2 separate regions of the Homo sapiens genome follow, and region 2 is linked to region 1. The links come from fine-mapping of genetic effects on gene expression. Tissue or cell type: whole blood. Region 1 holds a variant in brackets; the other region holds the start of a gene. All regions are shown on one strand. Distances are between the middles of the regions.

Region 1 (4,384 bases):
TTCCCAAGTGGACAGATTCAGAGTCCAGCTTCTACTATATTCCTTCTGAAACCATCCATTTATCCTGGTCCTCATAAAGTTCATCCTGATTCCCTTTGTGAGAAAAGCCAACTATTTGCCATCGCCTTCCCCACTCATTCTGAGTGAGGGAGTTATAAACTTTTTTTTTTTTTTTGAGACAGAGTCTCACTCTGTTGCCCAGGCTGGAGTGCAGTGGCACAATCTCAGCTCACTGCACCCTCCGTCTCCCAGGTTCAAGTGATTCTCCTGCCTCAGCCTCCTGAGTAGCTGGGATTGCAGGCGTGCCTCACCACGCCTAGCTAATTTTTTTTGTATTTTTAGTAGAGACAGGGTTTCCCCATGTCGACCAGCTGGTCTTGAACTCCTAAACTCAGGCAATCCATCTGCCTCAGCCTCCCAAAGTGTTGGGATTACAGGAGTGAGCCACCGTGCCTGGCCTAAACATCTTATTTCCCCATAACAAAATAGCTGAAGCTGAAAAATGAAAACCTACGATCTGAAGTCAAAAGTCAAATGTGTGAAGAATAAACCATGAAATTAGTTCTGTCCGCTCCACCAGCTTTCTGAATCCAGGAAGGCAAAGTCCATTTGCATTTTGTAACTGCTGACAAAGGTGTCCAAATAAGAAGTACCCCCACGAAGTTTCTATATAGTCCGAATGTACACACTAGCATCGCTGATGAAGGAAACAAATTCTGCAGAGCAGAGGGGACTTATCCAAGAATTCTTCAGTAATCAATCTGAGAATATGACTTTTGAGACAGCTCACTGGTGAGATTTTAACTTCAATTCAGTTTGACAAACATATTATGCAACTACTACAAACCGGGCACTTTGGCCGATACTAAGAAACCAAGAGGATTCTTATCACTGGAAACAAAATAATTAACTGAAAATGTAATTAATCGTACTAAAAAGGGGTTTCCACCTTTAAAATACATGACCAGCAGAAGCATAAAATCATTACCAATGCCCATTAAGTTGGCACTGTAGATTATACATCAGTTCCTACATCTAATATGTTCTTCCCAAGTAACATCAGTGGAGCCTCTGATCTTTTTTTTTTTTTTTTTTTTGAGACAGAGTCTTGCCCTGTCGCCCAGGCTGGAGTGCAGTGGCGGGATCTCAGCTCACTGCAAGCTCCACCTCCCGGGTTCACGCCATTCTCCTACCTCAGCCTCCCAAGTAGCTGGGACTACAGGCGCCCGCCACCACGCCCAGCTAATTTTTTCTATTTTTAGTAGAGACGGGGTTTCACCGTGTTAGCCAGGATGGTCTTGATCTCCTGACCTTGTGATCCACCCGCCTCAACCTCCCAAAGTGCTGGGATTACAGGTGTGAGCCACCGCGCCCGGCCGAGCCTCTGATCTTGCAAATGAGTCAGACATCCCTGCTGCAACAACCATAGGTGGCCTCTATGATAGCATCTATCCAATTTAACCATTTCTTTTTTAAATTTTGAGATGGAGTCTCATTCTTGTCACCCAGGCTGGAGTGCAGTGGCACGATCTTGGCTCACTGGCACCTCTGCCTCCTGGGTTCAAGTGATTCTCCCACCTCAGCCTCCTGAGTAGCTGGGATTACAGGCGTGTGCCACCATGACCAGCTAATTTTTGTATTTTTAGTGGAGATGGGGGTTTCACCATGTTGGCCAGGCTGGTCTCGAACTCCTGACCTCAGGTGATCTGCCAGCCTTGACATACCAAAGTGCTAGGATTACCAGCGTGAGCCACTGTGCCCGGCCTCTTTTTAAAAAAAATTCCTAGTTTTAAAAAACTTTTTCTGCTG[G/A]CATCTTGCTCTTGGAGGAACCATTTCTTTCTTTCTTTTTTTTTTTTTTTTTAAGACGGAGTCTTGCTCTGTTGCCCAGGCTGGAGTGCAGTGGCACAATCTCGGCTCACTGCAACCTCTGCCTCCTGGGCTCAAGAGATTCTCCAGCTTCAGCCTCCCAAGTAGCTGGGATTACAGGTGTCTGCCACCACACCCAGCTAATTTTTGTATTTTTAGTAGAGATAGGGTTTCACCATGTTGGTCAGGCTGGCCTTGAACTCCTGACCTCAGGTGATCCCAAAGTGCTGGGATTACAGGTGTGAGTGAGATGTTTTCTTTTTACTGATATGATTTCAAACAGCAATGTTTCTGAACAGCCTGATTTTAGAGAACAAATTTTCTCAATGAACCATTTCTTTATCACAGATTTCACATTTCAAGAAAATCCTAGCACTCACCGGTCGGTAGTAAAAATGTACCCCACGTGATCCTTACAGCTTAACAGCAGGACACTGAAGGCTACAGCAAAGAGCACTGAAGGTAAAAACGGCAGAAGAAACAACACAGTGAACAAGAAGATCCACAGGAAGTGGAGGAGCCTGGGTTTTGCATGCAGAGACTGCACCAAGAGCCTCGGGTAAAGGGGTCTCAGCACCTGTAATCAGCAGGGAAACGGTAGAGGACTTCCGTGCCTGCTCCATGTCTCCAGCACCCAGAGCGTTTCCTACCCGGACACTGGCAGCCACACTGAAGCCTGCAGGGACCTAAAATAAAAAGGAAACCTGCAACAATGAGTGAGAAACTGCAGAGCGAGAACACGTGCAGAGAAGCAGCCTCATGCCTCACACCTGGTGGGAAAACTTGGTCCTAAAAGTTTTGAAAAGACTGATTTGCAACATCCCCTTTGTCTAGCCGGGAACTCCCACGCTACTGTGGAAACTGAGCCCCAGGTTACGATGCTTAGCACAAACTGGGCTTTGCTGCAGAGCTTCCAACCTCTGCGACATGAGGGTGCTGCACAACCATGTTCCTCCTCTGGGTGTCGGGGGATGGACTGACTCACCAGGAGCCCAGGTTTTGTCTGTTTTTTTTTTGTTTTTGTTTTTAAATAGGGACAGAGGTCAGGCGTGGTGGCTCATGCCTGTAATCCCAGCACTTTGGGAGGCCGAGGCAGGTGGATCACTTGCGGTCAGGAGTTTGAGACCAGCCTGGCCAACATGGTGAAACCCCATCTCTATTAAAAAATACAAAACTTAGCTGGGCGTGGTGGTGCACGCCTGTAATCCCAGCTACTCAGCAGGCTGAGGCAGGAGAATCGCTTGAACCTGGGAGGCGGAGGTTGCAGTGAGCTGCGATAGTGCCACTACATTCCAGCCTGTGCGACAGAGTGAAACTCCTTCTCAAAATAAATAAATAAAATAAAATAAATAGGGACAGGGTCTCACTCTGTCCCTCAGGCTGGAGTGCAGTGGCACAATCATAGTTCACTACAGCCTCGACCTCCTGGGCTCAAACGATCCTGCAACCTCAGCCTCTCAAGTAGCTGGGATCACAGGCATGCGCCTCCACACATGGCATAGTGTCTGTTCTGAAAGACCATCAAGGGATCCAGCTTAGAAGACAGGAGTGGCACTAAAGGAACTGCAGGGAAACAACCCTGTATTGTGGTTAGGGATCAGGATTCTGAAGCCAGATTGCTTGGGCTCAAATCCCAGCACAGCCACTTTATCAGCTGCATCACCCTGAGCAAGTTACTTACCCTCTCAAAACCTCCAGAGTTTTATCTGTAAAAGGAGTTGAATCATAGAACCTATCTCATTGGGCTATTGTGGGAACTTAATGAGTCCATACATGCTAACTGCTTAGAAGAAGCATGTAGGAATTGCTCAATAAAGATTTACCATTACTATTATTTATAAAGTTACCACTTGAAAAATTAATATTAATAAGGAAAAAGGAGTCATCACTTGTTGAAACATGAACATTGCCTTAGGATCAGGATGACTATGGACCAGCTTAAAGAAAATCTGATACACAGATTGAGAAATAAAAAAGTAATAGAAGACTGAGTCTCTGCCTATAAATTCACAAGTAGGGACAAACAGAGATCGCCTGACAAATTATTTATTCATTACAAAGGGAAAGGTAGTAACTTGACAGGAGAAACCTGGCAGGTACCACCTTAACCAAGCAATCAAAGTTAATACTGGCAGGGTGCAATGGCTGTGCCTGTAATCCCAGCACTTTGGAAGGCCAAGGTGGAATGATTGCTTGAGCCCAGGAGTTTGAGACCAGCCTGGGCAACATAACAAGACCAAATTTTTTTTAAAAATTAGCTGGGAGTGGTGGTGCATGCCTGTAGTCCCAGCTACTCAGGAGGCTGAGGTGGGAGGATTGCTTGAGTCCAGGAGGTCAAGACTGTAGTAAGCCAAGATCAGGCCGCTGTCACCAGAACAAGACACTGTCTTAAAAAAAAAAAAATAAGTAAAATAAAAACAACCACCAACAAGTAAAAAGTAGTATCACCAACACTGAGACAGATCAACATCATGTGCCTCCTGATATGGTGCACTAAGAAGGACACAGCATCACTTCT
Region 2 (4,384 bases), 27 kb after region 1:
GTCTCAAAAAATAATAATAATAATAAAACAATAATAGCCTTAGAAAGCCCCTTCTCACAGCAGCTCTGTGAGGGAGTGTTGAACCAAGACATGATTATTATCTCCATTTTACAAATGAATATGCAGAGACCAGAAGAGGTTAGGAGGCTGTTTCAATCTGCACAGCTGCTTCCTGACTTACTTTCGGAGGTCAAAGCAGGGCACGCAGCCCCAGGTCTTGAGATTCCAAATCATGAGGTGTTTTTTTGCCCAGGCTGGAGTGCAATGGCGCGATCTGGGCTCACTGCAACCTCCGCCTCCCGGGTTCAAGCGGTTCTCCTGCCTCAGCCTCCCAAGTAGCTGGAATTACAGGCGCCTGCCACCATGCCCAGCTAATTTTTATTTTTTATTTTTTGTATTTTTAGTATAGACGGGGTTTCACCAGGTTGGCCAGGATGGTCTCAATCTCTTGACCTCGTGATCCGCCTGCCTTGGCCTCCCAAAGTGCTGGGATTACAGACGTGAGCCACCACGCCCAGCCATGAGGTGTTTTTGTTTTGTTTTGTTTTGTTTTTTGAGACCAAGTCTTACTCTGTTGTTCAGGCTGGAGTGCAGTGGCACCATCCTGGCTCACTGTAACCTCCACTTCCCAGGTTCAAGCGATTCTCGTGCCTCAGCCTCTGGAGTAGCTGGCACTACAGGCGCCCGCCACCACGTCTGGCTAATTTTTGTATTTTTAGTAGAGACGGAGTTTCACCATATTGGCCAGGCTGGTCTCGAACTCCTGACCTCAAGTGATCCATCTGCCTCAGCCTCCCAAAGTGCTGGGATTACAGGCGTGAACCACCGCGCCCAGCCCCAAATCATGAGTTCTTTCTGGTCTGTGAGAAAGCATGGCTGATGGATCTTATTCCATGGCTTTGACCTCGGCATTACCCTTGCTGTCCTGCACACCACAGCGGGTGCCACAATATCCCACAAACTACCGAGCCCCCACTCCAGAGGCACAGCGGCCCCCCTCAGCCCGCGCAGGTGCAGAATGTGGGCCTCAAAGTCAAAAGCTTATTCACGCCTTAAGTGCATACCAGTTGCTTCTTGTGCCGCGTCCTACCCTCTCGGTTTGAAAACCACCCAAGCTGGCAGGAGAACGTGGATAGGATTGTGTTTTTGTGGTTTTTAAAACCACATTATTTTTAGGAGACAAGGCAGAAACAGCCCTAACCTAATGATTAAAAAGAAAAGAATCCCACAGATAAGAACACCTCGACCCCACAAAGAACCACATTAAAACCCCTTTTTTCTTTCACATACATAATTACTGGCGGGGAGGGGGTGGTACAGGATGCCTCTGGTTTCCTCGGTAGAGGTTGACTGAATTCTGAAGAAATCATTTCGCAGCTCTGAGTCCACGACAGACCACGCACCCCCTCCTCCGTGCCTCGGGATTATTTAGATCGCAGAGCTCCCGAACTTTTGACCGCTACTTTTCAAAGAAACAAGTTCCCTTGTGTTTTGAAGTTCAGGCAACTTGCGTTTTATTGGCCGGAATCAGCTCCCAGAGAAGGCACCCCCGGATGCAAATGCAGCCTGGACCTGGTAGAGCCCCGTTAGGGGCAAAGGTCCCAGCTCTCCGGTGTCTCCTGGCGCAGGAGGCTGGAGCCGCCGGCCTCTCCGAGCCAACATGCGCCCGGGCGCGTACCAGCCGTTCCCGCAGTGCCCCGCGGGGCCCCCAGTCGGGTGGTGCGGAGCGGAAAGCGGCCGGGACGCAGGCAGAGGAGCTGGGGTGCCCGCCCGGCTCCTGGCACGATGCTCCCCGGAGCCCGCCGGCGGACAGCTCGCTCGGTCCCCAAAGCCCGCCAAAGTCACCCGCGGAGGCAGAAATCACCAGGTCCCCAGCCCGCCGGTACCGGCCTGCCACTGAGGCCACCTTACTCACCGCGGGGCCAGCCAGGACCAAGAGCGCCCGCAGCTCTTCTCGGAAGGCGGACAGCCGCAAGCAGCGCGACCCACGGACCTCAAGGGTGGCCTCCGGGCCTCCGCGCACTGGCGCGGGCTCCTCAGGAGCTTCCATGTGACTCGCGCGCTGCGGCCGGGTAGCGCGGAGGCCGGCAGTGGGTACCGCGGAGGCCGGCAGTGAGTACCGCGCAGGCCGGCAGTGGGTACCGCGCAGTGCAGCCTGCTCTGCAGTCCCCGCCCCGGCCGCCCGCCCAGAGCCCGCCCCGCGCCTGGCGCCCGGGGGCCCGACTGAGCGCGCAGCCAGGCAGCCTGCGACCTTGGGCGCGCCCCTTGCACCTCTCTCTGCACCACTGCGGACGCCTGCGGGTCTTGCAAAGACCAAGGAACTCCTGCACTTGGAAGGCAAAGTTTGAAAAAGCTCTGTAAACTAACGGAACGCGCTCCGGGGGCTGGGTCCTCCACGTCTCGGACGCCAGGACTCACCCCGGCTCTCCACCTCCGCTGGGGGTTTCAGGTTCTGAATGACCTGGCGTGGAAGGACCCAGAGGCCTCGAGCCGTGACTCGGTTAGCACCCCGCGGGGTGTGTGGGGTTGGGCGCATTTGCTGTGCAGATTGAGTTGGGTACACCCTTTGATGCTGGTTAGGGTGTTGCATACTCCTCTCCTCTCATCAGTTGTTCCATTAGAGAACTTAGAATCTACCAGGATAGAGCAACATGCTCCCATTTGCCAAGTAGCACAGTTTGTGCCAGCTGGTCGTGTTGGAAGTTTATCCATCAAGCCTGCTGTGGGAGTACGAGAGGCTGCGGCCCAGAAGGGCAGGAGCAGCGCGCTTTCCTCCCAGAGCCTCAGCTTCCTCATCTGCAAACGTGAAAGAACACTCGTCGCCAGCTGTGAAGACTGGGGTTGCCTGGGCGGAGGACCGGAGTCAGTGCCACCTGCCCTCAGCCTGGCACCAGCCGTTACCTAATAAGTGTCAGTTACCAGGACAAGATTGATTTCTCTAATAGTCAAAATTCCTTCCGTTGTAATGATCCAATGTAAGTAGAGAAAATGGAAAACAAATTTTTTGGCTCACATAATCAGGAAGTTTGGATTCAGGGATTTGAAAACAAGGTCATTAGGCCAGGCGCGGTGGCTCACGCCTGTAATCCCAGCACTTTGGGAGGCCTAGGCGGGCGGATCACAAGGTCAAGAGATCGAGACCATCCTGGCCAACATGGTGAAACACCGTCTGTACCGAAAATTAGCTGTGCATGGTGGCGCGCGCCATAATCCCAGCTACTAGGGAGGCTGAGGCAGGAGAATTGCTTGAACCCGGGAGGCAGAGGTTGCAGTGAGCCGAGATCTCGCCACTGCACTCCAGCCTGGTGGCAGAGGGAGACTCCACTCAAAAAAAAAAAAAAAACAAAACCAGATCATTCTTGTTGTCCCTCTTCCCATCTCTGTCCCTCTCCTCCCTTCTCCTCGCCCCTTGGGATTCTTTCCGTAGTTTCTCTTCCTCCTCTGCCGGCAGCCTTTCTCTTCCTGTGCAAGTGACAGTGGTGGCCTCTGATACCCTCGTTCCTATCTTTCCCGTCTGTTAAACCAGAAAGTAAGGCCCTCCCCTCCTCTCTTCTGGTTCCAAACTAACAAACAAAAAACTGGGAGAAAATCTGGTTGGCCCTGCTTAGGTTTCTTGCCCACCTCTGGAACAATCGCCCTGGGTGGGAAAATAGGGTCTGATGTTTGGCTGGCCCTGGACCATGCACCCAGCTTTGAACCTACAGGGTTAGGGTTAGGTGCCCTGTGACTGGTCTCGTCCCACAAGGACTGTACATATGGAGTAGCGCAGTTTCCCAAAAGAACTGAGAGTGTCAACAGACAAATACCCGAGGATATTCACTAGATCTCTGATCACTGCTGTTTTTTGATAATTTTCTGGAAGTCCTGACTGATGTAATAAGACAGGAAATGGAAATGTAATGTATAATGTTAGGAAAGAAAAGGCAAAGGGATTACTCACAGTAGAAATTGACAGACCGGGCCAGGCACAGTGGCTCATGCCTATAATCCCAACACTTTGGAAGGCCGAGGTGGGAGGATCACTGGAACCCAGGAGTTTTGAGACCAGCCTGGGCAACACAGTGAGACCCCATCTCTTAAAAAAAATCCACACAACCCAAAGAAATAAAATATGAACAAAAGCTAATAGAATTGATAAAGGGGTTTAATAAAGTTGCTACATAGAAGTTCTTCAACAAGTCATATCAGTCCTTTATATTGGTAATAACATATATGAAAATACTAAAAGAAATCTTTCACAATAGCAACAAAAAACAAAAGGTCCTCGTGATACAGAGCATAACTCCTCACTCCTTAAAGGTGGATTGTACACAGTGACTTCCTTCCAAAAAGTAGCACAGGAAAATTAATTTTCAATTAATATATTAGGTTTTAGTCCACTACT

Evidence for each region.
Region 2: it holds the start of SLC47A1, and the variant in region 1 is fine-mapped to the expression of SLC47A1 in whole blood (TOPMed, PIP 0.99).

What each region holds. Positions count from the first base shown.
Region 1 is chr17:19,558,356-19,562,739 of GRCh38, reverse strand. It overlaps SLC47A1 (solute carrier family 47 member 1), which reads right to left. Exons shown (of 17, transcript NM_018242.3): 11 at 2,444-2,552; 12 at 2,247-2,322. It overlaps LOC105371578 (a long non-coding RNA gene), which reads left to right. Exons shown (of 3, transcript XR_934310.4): 3 at 2,215-2,445. Among named protein-coding and RNA genes, the nearest start is that of SNORA59B, 3.0 kb to the right of the region's middle. The variant G/A (reference allele first, on the strand shown) is at 1,810.
Region 2 is chr17:19,531,606-19,535,989 of GRCh38, reverse strand. It overlaps SLC47A1 (solute carrier family 47 member 1), which reads right to left and starts at 2,136. Exons shown (of 17, transcript NM_018242.3): 1 at 1,916-2,136. The coding sequence starts at 2,050.